Linked DNA regions of Homo sapiens: region 2 is linked to region 1. Evidence: fine-mapped expression QTL. A gene starts in region 1. The other region holds a variant in brackets. All regions are shown on one strand. Distances are between the middles of the regions.

Region 1 (4,387 bases):
CCTGTAATCCTAGCACTTTGGGAGGCCGAGGCGGGCGGATCATGAGGTCAGGAGATCAAGACCATCCTGGCTAACACGGTGAAACCCCGTCTCTACTAAAAATACAAAAAATTAGCCGGGCGTGGTGGCAGGTGCCTGTAGTCCCAGCTACTCGGGAGGCTGAGGCAGGAGAATGGACTGAACCCGGGAGGCGGAGCTTGCAGTGAGCCGAGATCACGCCACTGCACTCCGGCCTGGATGACAGAGCAAGACTCCATCTCAAAAAGAAAAAAAAAAAAAGAAGAAAAATAAAATATTTCTTAAATGCTGAATGTTGCTTTGTTCTATGAATAAGCAATATTTGTTCACAGATACATCAACTAATTAGGAATAAAATGAATTTCAAGTAATTCATGTTTAATTACTTATTAACATGTATTATATTTACATTATTTTTTATCAATTATGTACTAATAATGGCAATGATGAAATGAAGATCTCAGTGTCTTGCACTGGGCAGAGGCCTTTCTCATTCTCTGCCACTTGGGCCCCAGCATGGCTTCCCTAAGAGCTAGGAGCTCAGAGGGAGGGGCTGGGCAAGACAGAAGTCAGGATCTTTTTGTAACTTAATCTTGTAAGTGACATCCCATCATTTTTGTCTTCTTCTATTCATATTCTATTGTTAGAACCAAGCCTCTGGGTCCATCCCACACTCCGCGAGGAGGATTCAGAAGGTCGTGACTCCCAGGGGGTGGGATCCTAGAACACATCTTAGAAGCTGCCTACGACAACCGCTGATTTTTAAGTAACAGTTACATCCTCTACATCTATTTAGACTTAGGATGGAGAATTTTAGATGTCATCTTTAAAATGCATGAGAGGATGCAGTTTTCCAAAATTCTTTTAGAAACAGACAATTTGAAGGCCACTGAGCTTCAGGCTTCATTCAGCTGGGTCGTGTCTGCGGGCGGGGCTCATAGAGATGTCGCTGGGGGTCAGCGGGTGCTTCGGGCAGCGAAAAAACCCACCTCTCGAGGGCAGTGGAAAATACAGGGAAAAGCCACTTGAGTGTAGACTCCGTGCGTGTCAAGGCCAGGCAGAGGCGCACTTGATAGGCAAGGAAAAGCGGACGGTGGTGGTCTTGGGAGGAAGAGAGGAGAGGCGAATGGGCAGGAGCGTGTGGATGCACTAGGGCAGGACGGGCTCGAAGCAGGAACCTAGGATAGAGGCAGCGCGGGCCGGCTTGGGAGGGTCCTCCAGGGTCCGGAGAGGAGAGGACGCAGGCTGCACGCGTGCTAAGAAGGAGACTCATGAAATGTGTAATTCGCTGGCGACAGCTTCCGCGGCCGTGGAGTGAGCCTCTGGGAAGTAACGACTCTCTTAGGTGCGGCTGGGACACAGTCTCACAGACCAGGTAAGTTGCCTGCCCTCCAGGAACTCAAGTGTCCCCGAGTCCGAGCCAGGAGGCTGGAAGTGACTGCTGTCCCATCCTCCCTGGAGCCCGGAGCTGTCCTTGTCTTGAGAAAGAGAAAGCAAAGCCAAGGAAAGCAGAGCGAGCAGAACCAGGCAAAGGGGTGGGGACAATAAAATGGGATATGGCCCGCGCTTCCATCTACTCAGGAGGCAGAGGCAGGAGGATCGCTTGAGCCCGGGAGGCCGAAGCTGCAGTGAGCTGCGGTTGCACCACTGCACTCCAGCCTGGGAGACAGAGGGAGACCCTGTCTAAAAATAAAGTAAAATAAAAAACAAAAATAAAAGGGACAGAGACTAAGAAAACGGACTTCCTGAAATCCCAAGTTGGGATTTCACGTCCAGTGACCCACAAGAGAAGCAAGAAGTCTGAACAGGGCCAAGAATCAAGTGAGTGGGGGCGGAGGATTAAAATCGACAGTTGCTGCGGCACGGCCAGGGTGGAGGGTGCATGTGGGGCAGGCGAGGCTCCAGCTGGAGTTGACGCTAGCCCGACGCGGGTGCAACTGGAGGCGCGACGGGCCAGGCCCAGGAGCAGCGGGAGGAGCGCACCTGGGGCGCGCGGGCGGAGGAGGGCCGGGGAGGGACGCCGGAAGGACTGGGTAGGGACGCCCGGAGGACTGAGCGTAGGGCCGAGAGGAGGGGCGCAAGGAGGAACGGGGGGAGGGCCCTGTCTCACCCTAAACCCCTCCCCGTCCCAGACTAAACTCCTCCCCTCGGCCCGGCCCGCCCCTGGGCCCGGGCTGGAAGCCGGAAGCGAGCAAAGTGGAGCCGACTCGAACTCCACCGCGGAAAAGAAAGCCTCAGAACGTTCGTTCGCTGCGTCCCCAGCCGGGGCCGAGCCCTCCGCGACGCCAGCCGGGCCATGGGGGCCGCACGCAGCCCGCCGTCCGCTGTCCCGGGGCCCCTGCTGGGGCTGCTCCTGCTGCTCCTGGGCGTGCTGGCCCCGGGTGGCGCCTCCCTGCGACTCCTGGACCACCGGGCGCTGGTCTGCTCCCAGCCGGTGAGACTCGACGTGGGGAGCGGTAGCCGCCAGGATGCTGCGGACGCGGGGCAAGGTCGCGGAGGGCCGGACGGTCGGGACTACGCGCCCGGGCTGGGGAGGCAGGAAGTCCGCGCCGCGGGCTTAGAGGGGCTCAGAGCCTTGGGCACAGATATCGCGGCGCCTGGGGAGGACCCTCGGAGCGGTGGGAGTTGCGGTGTGGAATACGGGGGGGGTGGGTGGCACATCGCGCGGCGCGTGTTGCACAACCTGGCCCGCCGTCGTGACTGGAGGCGGGAGTGACACCTCCGCCCGGGCCGCGGAGTTCGGGGAAGGAGGGCGCGGCGCTGGGCCAGGCCGGAGGGGCGGCCAGGGCTGATAGAAAGGGGCTGTGGAGAAGGGGCCCGGGGAGGAGCCAGGACGGGTCTGGACCCAGCTCCACGCCTTGCGCCCCTCACGTACCCCGGCGGGGCACGGTCGGCCCTCGGGAGGCCCATCGCGCCCTCGGGAGCTTCCCTCAAGCCGTGCCCTTCATGCCGCCGACGGAGCCGGGCGAGCCCACGTCGTCCGTGCGGAAGGTGGAGTCCCTCACCCGCGGCCCCCAGAGGGACCCCGCTGTCGTAGAGCCACGCGGGGGCCGGAGCGCTGAGACGCGGCACCATGTTTCGGGGAGAGCTCTGCCGAGGGCGGCTGAGGGCCACCTCCCCAGAGGCGCGAAGCCCTGAGGATGGGCAGATGGTTCTTAAGACGGCGCCCTTCCCGCCACTCCCACCCCCGACTACCACCACCTGGGTCTGGGAACCCGGTGAGAGCGCAGTCGGAGGGTCGAACGTTTGTAGCTGTCAAGTCGTAGCCCCGCTGCGCCCACAGGAAGTGACCCACCCGCCTGCCGGGTAGTGGCCTTTCTGTGAGCCAGGACCATCTTAAGGAAAAAAACAAAAAAAGAGCAAAACGCCGTGCCCCTCCACAATATACTCTCCTCTTCCCCGCATCCCCGAGGGGATCTTTCCTCCCCTCCACCTCCACCTCCACCTCCACCGCTGACCCCAAGGAATAATGCTCAGTATCTGAGTCAGAGGATGTAAAACAAAGGGATATTTCTCCTTATGTAGTTTTATGGAGGATTTACCGAAAGAAGGTGGAGGGTGAGTGACTATGTCGCAGAAAAAAAAAAAAAGATGTTTTTATCGTGAATGATGTTGAGAAATGTCCTGTGACTTCCACTATTGGGCAAAGCAGGTCCCTCTGCCCTGCTAGTCCCTCCTGCAGGCTGTGTATGAAGCGTTCTGATATGGAGGGTTGGTGCGCCTGGGTTGACAGCCATTGGTCAGGTGCCTGCAGAGTACAGGGCGCCATACTGGGAACTGGAACTATAAATAAATACTCTGGGGACCCTAATATCCAGAGACCTAACCCATCTACGGGAGGAACAAGGCTTGAAGTTAGGGAACTGTCTAGCAAAGCTGCTTGCACAACTGCTAAGTGTACGGAATTCCAGGAAAAAGAAAAATTGCTTCCAGTTGGGGTGTCCTTCATGGAAAAGGCATTTGGGCAGCCCTGTGGGGGTAGCAGGAGCATTCCAGGTGGTGGAAAGGGCCTGAGCCAAGGTCCTTAAGTGGGACAGGGTACGGTGTGTGGCCGGAATGGAGGGTCTGTGTAATAGGACAGTGAGAAAAGATGCCAGAAGCGGGGATGGGACTCTGCTGTGCGTGGCGTGGGAGCCAAGCTCTGACTTTCACTGCACAGTGAAGCAACTGTAAGTCAGGAGCAGAAGCACGGCCTGGCTCCAGGGAGGGCTGAAGAGAGACACTTGCTGTTCATATTTGTCTGCAGTCTCTCGTTCTCTTCCTTCCTCTCTCTCTCTTCTGTATACACCTGCCTCACAGACAGCTCTTCTCCAGAGATAGACAGCTCTGGGCTCCATTGACTAGTTCTTTTAAAAAGAAAGAAAACACA
Region 2 (4,387 bases), 36 kb before region 1:
CATTTGTTTATTAAAAAGTGTTTATTGAGCACCTTCTATATGCAAGGCCTTGTACAATAAAATGGGGATAACACTACTAATATATGAATAATAAATTGTCAATAATTATCAAATACCCATTGGGTTACAGGCACAGGGTGGTATATATAATAATAGTAAAAATAATGATGAAAGTACTGATGACAGGGATAATAATGTAAACTACCTGGATGTTTTATATGTATTATCTCATGGAAGCTTTAAAGAAACCAAATGAGGAATGGAATCTTTATTATTCCCATTTCACAGAGAAGGAAACTGAGGTTAAGGAGAGGTCAAGTAACTTTTCAAGGCATGGAGTGGACATTGGAAGTACAGGCATTTGCACCTGGTCCTCTTATTTTCCAAAACTACTGTAGGGTCCAACGTCACCTTGTTTTTCCACTCATTCAATAAATACTGACTTTTTATGCTATGTAATAGGTTGACACTCATCATGAGCCTCTGCCCTCGTTCTGCAGGTGGTGAAGGCATTGATTGTCCTGACCCCACAGTTTCTGTCCCATGACAAGGACCAGCTGACTAAGGAGCTGCAGCAGCATGTAAAGTCAGTGACAGCCCCATGTAAGTACCCGAGGAAGCTAAGTGAGGGCAGATGGAAGGGGTCAGTTCCCAGTACTCCTGCCCCATGTCTCCTAGGGTGGCTGTGCAGGGGGAAGCTTGGAGACTCACAGTAGTGGCTTTTTTTTCTGCATAAGAAGCAATTTGGCTTAGGGATGGGGTGTTCTCTTAAAAATGTATTTAAACTGACAAATTAGAAAATGATCTATTAAAAGCAAGGAGACATAGATAAATCCTAATTCAGGTGATTACAACAAATATTTCTTAAGCACTTTCTATATGCTGGCAATTTATAAGAGTGTTTAAGATAAATCTAGTATAAATGCTGAACTCAGGAGAGTAAGAAAATGACAAATACTTATAGGACAGCCCATGCGATATTACAAGCACATGCAATGTTGTGAAATAACACAGAGGAGGGCATAATTAACTCTGCAAGAGTTAGGAGGAGGTTCAAAGAGGAGGGCCTAGTGAGTAGGCATTTTCAAGATGTAAAGGAATAGAGGGGATGATGTGGAAAGAGGAAGAACCTCTCAAAACAAGACAGGGCTGGGCTTGGTGCCTCACACCTGTAATCCCAGCACTTTGAGAGGCTGAGGCAGGATGATCAGTTGAGCCCAGGAATTTGAGACCAGCCTGAGCAACACAGCAAGAACCCTGTTTCTATTTAAATAAGTTTAATATATTAAAAAAAGACAACAGAGTAAACAAGAAGCACTGAGGCATGAGACAACATGACATGCAAAAGACAGTAAAGTTGAACTAGTAACATAATTTCTAATGTCTCCAAATGACGAAAGTAGCATACAGCTCTTAAAACTGACATGAGAAAGTGCATTTAGTGACTTCAGTCTTTGGTGGAAGTTCCTAGTGTATGAAATGGAACAGATGAGAAAAGGCCTTGGTTCCCATGCTGTGGGAATAGGGAACTGGTGAAGGGCTAAGTATCAGAGGACGTGTAATTCAGATAAATCACTCCGTTGGTTACCTGGAGGGTGAATTTGAGGAGAATGAGACTGGAGGCAGGAGCAAGGCAGTACCAGTGCAGGTGAAGAAAGAACATAGGTAGAACTTGGCCACCAATTAGAAAAGGTGAGAGGAGGAGCCAAGGAGAGGGAAACATGTGGGATCACGGCCAGGTTTCAGGCTGGAACAGGACAAATGGCAGAAGCATCCAATATTGAAAATAGAGTCAGAGGAGCCTTCTTGAGTGGAGAGGGATAACAGGGCATTCTAGGACAGGATGGGTTTGAGATTTCTTGACATATCTGAGTGGAAAAGTCTTGGAAGCATGAGGCCACACCAGAGCTCAGTGAGGGCAAGAAGATAGGGAGTGTGGAGTCATCAGCTTGCAGGTGACAGCTGAAGCCATTCTCCCACTTCAGGAGAGAAGCACATGAGCAAAGAGCTGAGATTCCTGGAGAACACCAACATTCCCAAGTGAGCTGAAAGAGAGAATTCGGAGGAGGGCCAGAGGGAAAATTAAATGGAAGAGTGTGC[T/C]GTAGAGATAGCACTGTGATCCAGGGCTTGATCTTTGAAGGCAGACTGCCTGAATGACAGTTTCCTTTTCTGTAAATGAGAGTGAAATTATCTACCCATGCATGGAAAAAAACCCTCAACAAACTAGAAACAGGAGGGAACTTCATCAGCATGATGAAAAGCATCTGTGAAAACCTAACAGTTAACAGATTTAATGGTGCAAGACTGAATGCTTTCCCCTAAGATTGGGAACAAGACAAGGATGGCCATGTTCAGCAGGTCTATGCAGCCTTGGTTCTGACCAGGATGATTAGGCGATTGATATATAAAAGGATCCAGATTAGAAAGGAAAAAGTAAAACTGTCTTACTCCCAAATGTCATGATCTTGTATACAGAAAATCCTAAGGTATCCAGTTTAAAAAAAAAACAAAACTAGAACTAGTTCAGCAAGTTCACAAAATCAGCATACAAAAATCAATTGTATTTCTGTACACTAGCAATGAGAAATCCAAAAATGAAATTCAGAAAATTATTCCATTCACAATAGCATCCCAAAGAATAAAGTACTCACTGTGGAAAGAAACTAAAAAAGAACTAAATAAATGAAAGATATTCCATGTTCATGGATCAGAAGACTAAATATTATTGTCAGTACTCATCAAATTAGTCTACAGGATCAACCTGATTCCTATCAAAATCCCAGCTACCTTTTCTGCAGAAATTGACAAGGTGATCCTAAAATTCATATGGATATGCAAAGGACACAGAATAAGCAAAATAATCCTGAAAAAGAAGAACAAGATTGGAGGACTTATCTTCCTAATTTCAAAACTTGCTACAAAGTAATCAAGAGGGTATGGTACTGTCTTAAGGACAGATGTATAGGTCACTGGAATATAGTTGAAAGCTCAGGCTGGGCACTCATGCCTGTAATTGCAGCACTTTGGGAGGCTGAGGTTGGGGGATCCTTTGAGGTCAGGAATTCAAGACCAGCTTGGGCAACATAGACAGTGAGACCTGTCTAAAAAAATAAAAATTAAAGACAAATTTGATTAGCCAGGCATGGTGGTATAGGCCTGCTGTCCCATCTAGTCAGGAAGCTGAGGTGGGAGGATCTCTTGAGCCTAGGAATCTGAGAATGCAGTGAGCTATGATTGGCTACTACACTCCAACCTGGGGAAGAGAGAGAAAACGTATCTGTAAAAGAAAATAAAGCCAAGTGTGGTGTCTTATGCCTGTAATCCCAAAACTTTAAAGGGCCAAGGAGAGAGGATCCCTTGAAACCAGGAGTTTGACACCAGCCTGGGCAACATAACAAGACTCTGTAACTATGAAAATTAAATTAAATTAAATTTAAAACTATGGCTGGGTGTGGTGTAATCCCAGTACTTTGGGAGGCTGAAGTGGGTGGATCACCTGAGGTCAGGAGTTCGAGACCAGCCTGGCCAACATGGCAAAACCCTGTCTCTACTAAAAATACAAAATTAGCCAGGCGTGGTGGTGTGTGCCTGTAACACCAGCTACTCCAGAGGCTGAGGCAGGAGAATCACTTAGAACCTGGGAGGCAGAGGTTGCAGTGAGCTGAGATCACACCACTGCACTCCAGCCTGGGTGATGGAGGGAGACTCTGTCTCAAAAAGAAAAAAAAAAAATTAGCCAGGTATGGTGGCACACACTTGTCGTCCCAGCTACTTAAGAGACTGAGGCAGGAGGATGAATTGAGCTCAGGAGTTTGAGGCTGCAGTGAGCTATGATCACACCACTGCACTCCAGACTGGGCAACACAATAAGACCCTGTCTCGAAAAAAAATGAATTGATTAACTGAAAAATAATTGAAATCCCGGAAAGAAACCATTACATTTAAAGTCAATTGATTTGACAAAGGGGTCAAGAAACTTCATTTGGAAAGGAATAGTCTTTTCTTTTTTTGTTGTTTTTCATTTTGTAGAGACACATGTCTCACCATGTTGCCCAAGCTTATCTTAAACTCCTGGAGTCAAGCAATACTCCTGCCTTGGTCTCCCAAAGTGCTGGGATTACAGGTATGATCCACTATGTCCAACCATGAATAGTCTTTTCAACAAATGGTGGTGGGGCAATTGGATATTCATGTGCAAATAAATTAATTTGGGTCTCTGCCTAACACCATACACAAAAATTAACTGAAAATGGATCACAGACCTAAATGTAAAAACTAAAACTATAAAACTCTTAGAAAAAAACACAGGAGTAAATCCTTGTGATCTTGTGTAAGGCACTGATGTCTTAGATGCAATGTCAAAAGCACAGTTCAAGACCAGCTGGGG

The links. PIP is the estimated chance that this variant, and not a neighbour inherited with it, causes the effect.
Region 2: its variant is the best candidate, but not a certain one, in a credible set for the expression of IL17RA in whole blood (INTERVAL, PIP 0.64).

What each region holds. Positions count from the first base shown.
Region 1 is chr22:17,082,778-17,087,164 of GRCh38, forward strand. IL17RA (interleukin 17 receptor A) reads left to right here and starts at 2,223. Exons shown (of 13, transcript NM_014339.7): 1 at 2,223-2,452. The coding sequence starts at 2,315. RefSeq lists an enhancer at 1,283-1,452 and silencers at 2,006-2,225, 2,246-2,365, 2,616-2,715, 2,756-3,005.
Region 2 is chr22:17,046,824-17,051,210 of GRCh38, forward strand. CECR7 (cat eye syndrome chromosome region, candidate 7) reads left to right here. Exons shown (of 4, transcript NR_152826.1): 3 at 501-603. Among named protein-coding and RNA genes, the nearest start is that of CECR7, 12 kb to the left of the region's middle. The variant T/C (reference allele first, on the strand shown) is at 2,101.